2 separate regions of the Homo sapiens genome follow, and region 1 is linked to region 2. The links come from fine-mapping of genetic effects on gene expression. A gene starts in region 2. The other region holds a variant in brackets. All regions are shown on one strand. Distances are between the middles of the regions. Region 1 overlaps PMM2 (phosphomannomutase 2). Region 2 holds the start of CARHSP1 (calcium regulated heat stable protein 1).

The links. PIP is the estimated chance that this variant, and not a neighbour inherited with it, causes the effect. A credible set is the group of variants that fine-mapping cannot tell apart.
Region 1: its variant is the best candidate, but not a certain one, in a credible set for the expression of CARHSP1 in lung (TOPMed, PIP 0.54).

The regions. Positions count from the first base shown.
Region 1 is chr16:8,830,885-8,835,102 of GRCh38, forward strand. All of the region lies in intron 7 of PMM2 (phosphomannomutase 2), which reads left to right. Among named protein-coding and RNA genes, the nearest start is that of PMM2, 35 kb to the left of the region's middle. The variant T/C (reference allele first, on the strand shown) is at 2,483.
Region 2 is chr16:8,866,567-8,871,071 of GRCh38, forward strand. CARHSP1 (calcium regulated heat stable protein 1) reads right to left here and starts at 2,440. Exons shown (of 4, transcript NM_014316.4): 1 at 2,400-2,440. It overlaps CARHSP1-DT (CARHSP1 divergent transcript), which reads left to right and starts at 2,715. Exons shown (of 2, transcript NR_186721.1): 1 at 2,715-2,762; 2 at 3,047-3,473. RefSeq lists enhancers at 1-597, 1,603-1,662 and a silencer at 1,803-2,762.

The DNA of each region.
Region 1 (4,218 bases), 36 kb before region 2:
TCCCAGCACTTTGAGAGGCTGAGGCAGGCCGATCACTTGAGGCCGGGAGTTTGACACCAGCCTGGTCAACAGGGTGAAACCCCGCCTCTACTAAAAGTACAAAAATTAGCCAGGTGTGGTGGTGCACACCTGTAATCCCAGCTACTCGGGAGGCTGAGGCAGGAGAATCACTTGAACCTGGGAGGCAGAGATTCCAGTGAGCCGAGAGTGTGCCACTGCACTCCACCTTGGTGACAGAGTGAGACTCCGTCTCCAAAAACAAAAAAAACAAAGTTGAACTATAAACTGAATTCCTCCCAAGGTTAGTTCAGCCTGTGCCCTGGAATGAACAAGGACAGCTTGGAGGTTAGAAGCAAGATGGAGTCAGGCCAGATCTCTTTCACTGTTAACATTTTCTCAGTTATAATTTTTGCAAATGTGGTTTCAGTCCCTGCATCCATAATACCTAGAAATTTGATAAATACTTGTTAAACAACCAAAATAAACATCCATAGCAAGAATCGACTATAAGGCATGGTGGTGCACACCTGTAGTCCCAGCTACTCAGGAGGCTGAGGTGGGAGGATCGCTTGAGCCCAGGAGGTGGAGGCTGCAGCAAGACATGGTCGCACCAGTGCACTCCAGCCTGGGCAAGAGTGGGACCCTGTCTCAAAAATAAATAAGAGTCCCGACCACGAGCTACAGAGAGTCCATCTGTGCTATAGGAGGCATCCACACAGCACACACCCACTGCTACCAGCGAAGCAGTTCACGCAGGCTGTGATAGATCACACTGTTCCTCTCTTTGGATGATTGGGGTTCACTGCTACACTGCACAGGTCAGCAACAGCATGTACAGAAATGGGCTGCGGTGGGGAGACTCATCAGCCCCCTGGCATCTGAACATGGCCAACACTATGCCTTCTGTTTCATCCTCAGACTTTGGGACTATTAGGGATTTAAATATTAATGCGCGGATTTCACTGAGCCCTGGCCTCTCTTTGGTGCCTGTCAGGTACACTATAATGAGAAATTGGATCGTTCATTCTTCCCTCCCCCCTTCCCTCCCTTCTCCAGGGAACAGGGTTTTTGTTCTTGGAGCTTGGGAGGTGGCTGAGTTCCCCAACTAGAATCAAGTAACCTTTAGTGCATATGCAAATCCAGCATTTGAAATTTCCGGTTCTCTAGCCTTATTATTCTAGAGGGCAGCCAGCTTTCCTTTCATTTCATTTGGGGTCCGCTTCACTTGCTTTGCAGCTACTCTGGTATGCAAGCTCGACACAGCCCCAAGAAGGCTGCACCCCAGGAAGGAGCCCACCATGCTCTGAGAGTCACAAAGAAAGAAGCAGACCCTTGGCGGGAGAGAAAGGAAGGCCTGAGGCAGGTTGTGTTTGTGATGCAGATGCTCCTGCGAGCCGTGCGGCTCTCTGAAAGCGGGTGGAGCTGAGAAGCAACCCAGAGAGGCTCCTGCAGCCAGGGTCGGGAGGATTTCACCTTCCTGGATGGGAATTGATTCTCCAGACCTAGCTTTATTAAGTGTCAGCGAGTTACATGCACACAGATCACTCAGATTCCACAGACACCTCCCCACCAGCCCCCAGCAGGACCACGGGAGGAGACTCGTGCCGTTAGGCCTCTGTCCCTGCATGTGACATCTGCAGGGAAGGGCAGGCCTAGCAACTGTCAGGGGACTAGCATAAACCCTTTTTGCTTCAGGGGTCTCTTCCCAGGTAATGGCCTCTGTCCTCTTTGCACCCTGGCCGGCTGCAGGAGCCTCCTAACTGCTCCCTTCAATTGCGTCCTCACCCCGCACCCGTTCTCCAGAAAGATCCTGTTGTAAAGTAATCTGATCATGGCCCGGGCTTGCAGGCTTCAGGCGGCTACCCGTGAAATCCCAGGTGCTTACCACAATCTGTGAGGCCCGCTGTGGCCCGGCCCCAGCCCCTGCCCATCCTCCCTCTTCAGCGTCTTCTCTGATGGCCACATGGCCTGTGCCCTCACGTCCCTCAGATGCCAGGGTTCCCTCACCCTCCAGGCCTGGCAGCCCTTCCCTCCCTTTGCTCAACAAGGCGCCCAAGAGCTGTCTGTTGATGACTGGTCTCCCCAGGGCAGCTGTGATGTGGTTTTGGTTTGCGCCGTATCCCCAGCTGCTAAAGCAATGCCTGGCGGGTAGAGGGTTTCGTGCGCGTCCGTGTGAAGAGACCACCAAACGGGCTTTGTGTGAGCAACATGGCTGTTTTTTTCACCTGGGTGCAGGCGGGCTGAGTCCCAAAAGAGAGTCAGCAAAGGGTGGTGGATTATCATTAGTTCTTATGGGTTTTGGGATAGGCGGTGAAGTTAAGAGCAATGTTTTGCGGGCAGGAGTGGATCTCACAAAGTACATTCTCAAGAGTGGGGAGAATTACAAAGAACCTTCTTAAGGGTGGGGGAGATTACAAAGTACATTGATCAGTTTGGGTGGGGCAGAAGCAAATCACAATGGTGGGATGTCATCAGTTAAGGC[T/C]ATTTTTACTTTTGCGGATCTTCAGTTACTTCAGGCCATCTGGATGTATACGTGCAAGTCACAGGGGATGCGATGGCTTGGCTTGGGCTCAGAGGCCTGACATTCCTGCCTTCTTATATTAATAAGAAAAATAAAATAGTGTTGAAGTGTTGGGGCGGTGAAAATTTTTAGGGGGTGGTATGGAGAGAGAATGGACGATGTTTCTCAGGGCTGCTTCAAGCGGGATTAGGGGCGGCGTGGGAACCTAGAGTGGGAGAGATTAAGCTGAAGGGAGGTCTTGTGGTAAGGGGTGATATTGTGGGGATGTTAGAAGAAACATCTGTCGTATAGAATGATTGGTGATGGCCTGGATACGGTTTTGGATGAATTCAGAAACTAAATGGAATAAGAGAAGGAGAAAAACAGGTATAAAAGGTCTAAGAATTGGGAGGACCTATGACATCTGATTAGAGAGTGCCTAAGGAGATTCAGCATAGTCCTGCCAGCAAAGATTATTTATTTACCTCAAGAGTTTAGAGTGGCAGTTTGGGGATAGCACCAGGAGATATCAGCTGTGATGGCTTGGAGAAACAGTGTAAACCGGCAGTGTAAACAAGAGCAGGGCATGTATGAGTAGTTGAGAATGGCGAATAGGAATATGACTAGACAGGAGATAGTAGGGATGACAAGTTTTGGGGGGCACAGTCTAAGTTGGTCTGGTGTCTGGAATGAGACTGGGGCCTAATAAAAAGGAGCGTCTATACAGGAGCTTACATGGGCTGTACCTTGTAGCATTCTGAGGACAGGCCTGAATTCTGAGAAGGGAAAGTGGTAAAAGTATTGTCCAGTCCTTTTTAAGTTGGAGGCTGAGCTTGGTGAGGTGTGTTTTTAAAAGACCTTTAGTCCATTCTACCTTTCCTGAAGATTGAGGACTGTAAGGGATATGAAGGTTCCACTGAATACTAAGAGCCTGAGAAACTGCTTGGGTGATTTGACTAGTAAAGGCTGGTCCGTTATCAGACTGTATAGAGGTGGGAAGGCTAAACTGAGGAATTATGTCTGACAGAAGGGAAGAAATGACTGCGGTGGCCTTCTCAGACCCTGTAGGAAAGGCCTCTACTTATCTAGTGAAAGTGTCTACTTAGAGTAAGAGGTATTTTAGTTACCTGACTCGGGGCATGTTGAGTGAAGCTAATTTGCCAGTCCTGGGTGGGGGCAAATCTTCAAGCTTGATGTGTAGGGAAGGGAGGGGGCCTGAATAATCCCTGAGGAGTAGTAGAATAGCAGATGGAACACTGAGAAGTTATTTCCTTGAGGATAGATTTCCACGATGGAAAGGAAATGAGACGTTCTAAGAGGCGGGCTAGTGGCTTGTACTATAGCATAGCCTGCCTTTGCTGCTATGTGGCGATTAGGCCTGGTGGAACCGCCATCAATAAATCAAGCGTGATCAGGGTGAGGAACAGGAAAGAAGGAAATATGGGGAAATGGGGTGAATATCAGGTGGATCAGAGAGATACAGTCATGGGGGTCAGGTGTGGTATCAGGAATAATGTGGGAGGCCAGATTGAGGTCCGGGCCAGGAACAATGGTAATTGTGGGACTTAACAAAGAGTGAGTACAGCTGAAGGAGCCGGGGAGCAGAAAGTATATGCATCAGGTATGAGGAAGAAAGTAGATTTTGGAAGTTACGAGAAATGTAGAGAGTGAGTTGAGCATAGTTTGTGATTTTTACGGCCTCTAAAAGTATTAAAGCA
Region 2 (4,505 bases):
AGGGTCCCTGGAAGCGATAGAGGCCGAGAACGAGCCAGAGGTTGACGCAGCAGCGTCAGGCTGGCCTAGCCACATTCCCCTCCATTGTTCCGGGGAGAGCGGGGGGTCTGGCGAGGGAGGAGCAGAGAGAGAGGAGGGGGAGGGACACGAAGGGATGGGGGTTGGAGTGTCCAGGGGGAGGGACGGGAGGCAAAGGGGAGGGGGCAGCCAGGCCGGAGTCAGCCCTCCGCTGGCTAAGGACCTGAAGCCAACAGTCACAGAGAAGTGCAAACAGGCGGGCAGGGAAGGTGCAGCCCGGCGCCTACGTCTGCCCAGAGCCCCCTCCCAGGCCCCGCCAAGCTGGGAATAGCTCTTCCGCCCTCAGGAGCCCCTGAGTGCTGGGAAGAGGCCGGAAACCCGAGGAGTGTACCGGGAACCCAAGGGGGCCTCCAACATTGCCATTGCCTGTGCCCCCATTAGCACCCCTGGACGGCCTCGACCGGACGGGCGACCCCACCCAGCAGGGAGACGGTCACCCCACCGCCACCACCCACCTGGGACCCTGCGCCCGCCCCAGTTCTCAGCCTGGACTGCCCCTCCTGCGGGAAGCCCAAGCCCTCCTTCTCAACAAGAACCCTACTCTACACGCCTCCCCCACTCAATCCCTCCATCCTTCCCTCCATTCTCGGGGGGCTTTGGCTCAGACCTGAGATTGAGCCCTGACTGGTCCCCACTCCCTCTGTGACCCCTGCCAGGCGATTTCACCGCCCCACCCGAGTTTCCTCATCTGTCAAAGGGGACAGGAGCGGTGCTGCGTCGCAGGGCTCGGACGCTGTGCAGATGGTGCCGCGAAAATGCCAAGCGCACGGCGGGCTCAGTCCACAATAGTGCGGCTGATGGTGGAAGTGTCAGGCACGGGCCCATCTGAAATCACCTTCCCTCCCATTCCTGCCCCTGCTGATGGAACACAAACCAAATGCGCTGGCTTTGCCACTCGGTGGAACAAAGACCGATCCCCTACCTAGGGGACCCACCGTCAACCACCCTCAACCCCACCCCATGGCCCCACGCCAGGCCTAGCTCAGCTCATTGAAAACATCTACTCCCAGCCGGGCTCTGCGCCTCTTTCTTGCCCTGAAGGGACCAGCATCGAGAACTCACGGTCATCACCGAGGCCACCCAGGGAGTGCAGAGGGCGGTGGGGTCTCCAAGGAGGACCCCGAGCCCAGAGGAGGGCCAAAGGCCCGAAGGGAGGGAGAACAGAGGCAGAGAGAGGCTGGAGAAGGTAGTGGCGGAAGATAACAGGAAGCCCTGCTGAGAAGTTGGGGACTTAGACGACAATGGGACTTCGGTGGACGATTTTCAGCGTGGGGTAGATCTAAGCGGATTGTTTTTCTAAGTTCCCTCTGGCTTCAGAGTGGCAGCAAATGACAGGGGCAAGCAAGACTGGGCACAGAGAGACTGAGAAATATCAAAACAGCAAGTTAAAAAACAGTAGCTTACGTGTCTCCCGGCACGGGGCTAGCTGCCTCCTTTTACTCTCACACACCCTCTCATGCCAGAAGAAGTCAGAGCCCAGTCTGCAGATGGGGAAACTGAGGCTCCGAGAGGCCTCCTATTTGGCAGAGATTTCCCCACCTATTAAGACCCAAGGCCCTGCCTGGAGCGGGACGTCTCCGCCTCCCCCAGCACACACATCCACTCCAACCCCAGAAAACCATAGGGCCGGAGGCTTCCTTTTTAAAAATCAAAAAAGAACATTTCACTTCCGGCCTGCAAACCTGAACCGCCAGCGCAGCCTGCGGAAAGGGGGCCTGTGGGCGCGGGTGAAGTTTTTCTCCAGCGCCTAAGGCACCCCCACCCCCATCCGGGCGCAAACACCCGGGCCCAGCGCGCCCGGCGGCTCCTCCTCCCCCAGATGCGGCTAATCGCGCGGCGCCAGGACGGCTCCCCACCTCCCCCGCCGGGCCTGGCCGCCGTCCCAACCTCGAGCCACAGCTGGCGCGGCCAGGCCCGGCGGGGGGTGGCTCTGCTTCCCGCGTGCGACGCCCCCCGCGCCTCGCCCCACCGCCCGGCGAGTCCCCCGTCCAGGGCTCCCGCCCAAAGGCAAAAGCAGCGGGGAGGGCGGGAAGAGCTTCCCCTGCACGCAGAGAACAGGTGGCCAGGCGGGAAGTACTACCCGACGTCCGCCTAGAATCCTTGCCGCTGTTGCCACACCCACCCCTTCCCCTGGGGAGGAGCAACCCGCGTTCCCCAAACAGGCCCCGAGAAACCCAGCCCGGAGCCCTCCTCTGCCGAGCTAGAAGACCCTGCAGGATGGGGGACGATGGAGGCAGAGGAGGCCGAGGCCCCACCCCTGCGGCTCCCGGGGCCGCGGGCCAGGGGCGCCTATCCTGGGGTCCCCGAGAAGAGCTCCCTACCCTGCAATCCGTTCTGCTCCGCCAGCCGCTTCGCTCCGACTGAGAGCGCGGAGCTGGGGAGGGGGCGTGGCCCGAGGGGGGGTGGGGCGCCGATCCCCGCCCCCAGGAGCTCCCGGCCAATGGGGCTGCGGGAGGGAGCCCGGGACGGTGGGGGCGGGCGGGGCGGGAGTGGCCCGGACAGGACCTTTGTGTCCGCGCCTTAGACTGGCGGGAGAGCGGAACGCAGAGCGCGGGACGTAGGGGCCGGGGCGGGGCGGGGCGGGGCGGAGCTGGGCTGCACCCACCAGCAGAAAACGCCCCTGCAAAGTGGGGGAACTGTGTCCCTGCGCCCGTGCAGTTCCTTCCCCTCGCCACGCGCGCCAGGTGCGGCTCCCACCTGCCTTTGGCTCTAAAATCTGTATAATCCCGGAGGGTGTCACTTTTAGCAGAAAGGAAATAAAGGAATGAAAAGAGAGACGGAAGAAAACAAGCAAAAAACAGAAAGGAGGAAAAGGGAAAGAAAAAATACACACGCACACACACACCAGAAAAACAGGGTTTTGTTTTCTCGTTGGGGATTTTGATTTTGTTCTCTTCTCTTGTTTCATTTCTAGCCTTCCTTGAGTCCTCTGTTTTTGGAGGTAAAAAATGTTACCTCTGTTTTGCAGGAGAGGAAACTGAGGCACAGAGAGGCGACCAGCCCATGGGCACGGCCAGTCGAGAGCAGCCCCTGAAGGCGAGCCTAGATCCCGGGACCAGGGTCAGCTTGGTATTTGAGGGGCGCGGGGAAGGAGAGAGGTCCCCGGAGCTCGCCCGGGACAACAGGGCCCCCGGAGGCGGCGGTGAGGACTGTGCCTGCCTCACTCTGCAGCCCCTATTGGGGCCACTGGGGAAAAGGCCCAGCAGCGAAACCAACTAGTCCAAGCCAGGCAAGGAACCGTCCTAGACGGCTGGTGGGAACAACCGCGCAGCTGCTGTGGAAAAAGCCCGGCGGTTCCTCAAACCACGAGCCCTGGAGTCTCCATAAAACCCATCAACTCCACTCCTAGGTGTCTGCGCGCCCAAGAGAAATAAAAATGTTTGTCCACACAAAAATTTACTTGAGGCCGGGTGCGGTGGCTCACGCCTGTAATTCCAGCTCTTTGGGAGGCCGAGGCAGGAGGATCACTTGAGCTCAGGAGTTGGAGACCAGCCTGGCCAACATGGCGAAACCCCGTGTCTATGAAAAATACAAAAATTTGCCGGGCTTGGTGGCGGGTGCCTGTAATCCCAGTTACTTGGGAGACTGAGGCAGGAGAATCACTTGAACCCGGGAGGTGGAGGTTGCAGTGAGCCAGGATCATGCCACTGCACTCCAGCCTGGGCGACAGCGAGTCTCCGTCTCGGGGGGGAAAAAAAGTTAAAAATAAATAAATAGGCCGGGCGCGGTGGCTCACGCCTGTAATCCCAGCACTTTGGGAGGCCGAGGCGGGCGGATCACGAGGTCAGGAGAACGAGACCACGGGGAAACCCCGTCTCTATTAAAAATATTAAAAATTAGCCGGGCGCGGTGGCGGGCCCCTGTAGTCCCAGCTACTCGGGAGGCTGAGGCAGGAGAATGGCGTGAACCCGGGAGGCGGAGCTTGCAATGAGCCGAGATAGTGCCACTGCACTCCAGCCTGCCTGGGCGACAGAGCAAGACTCCATCTCAAAAATAAATAAATAGATAAATAATGATTTACTTGTTGGGCTGGGCGTGGTGGCTCACGCCTGTAATCCCAGCACTTTGGGAGACCGAGACAGGAGGATCTCTTAAGCCCAGGAGTTTATGACCAGCCTGGACAACATAGTAAGACCCCTTCTTTACCAAAAAAAAAAAAGTTTTAATTAGCCAGGAGTAGTAGCACCCACCTGTAGTCCCAGCTACTGGGGAGGCTGAGGTGGGAGGATCCCTTGAGCCCAGGAGATCGAGGCTGCTGTGATCCGTGACTGCACTGCTGCACTCCAGCCTGGGTGACAGAGTAAGATTTATAGCAGTATTACTCATAGTAGCCAAAAGGGAGAAACAGCTCAGATGTCCATCAAGTGATGAAAGGATAAACAAAATGTTGTGTATCTATACAGTAGACAACTATTCACTCATCAACA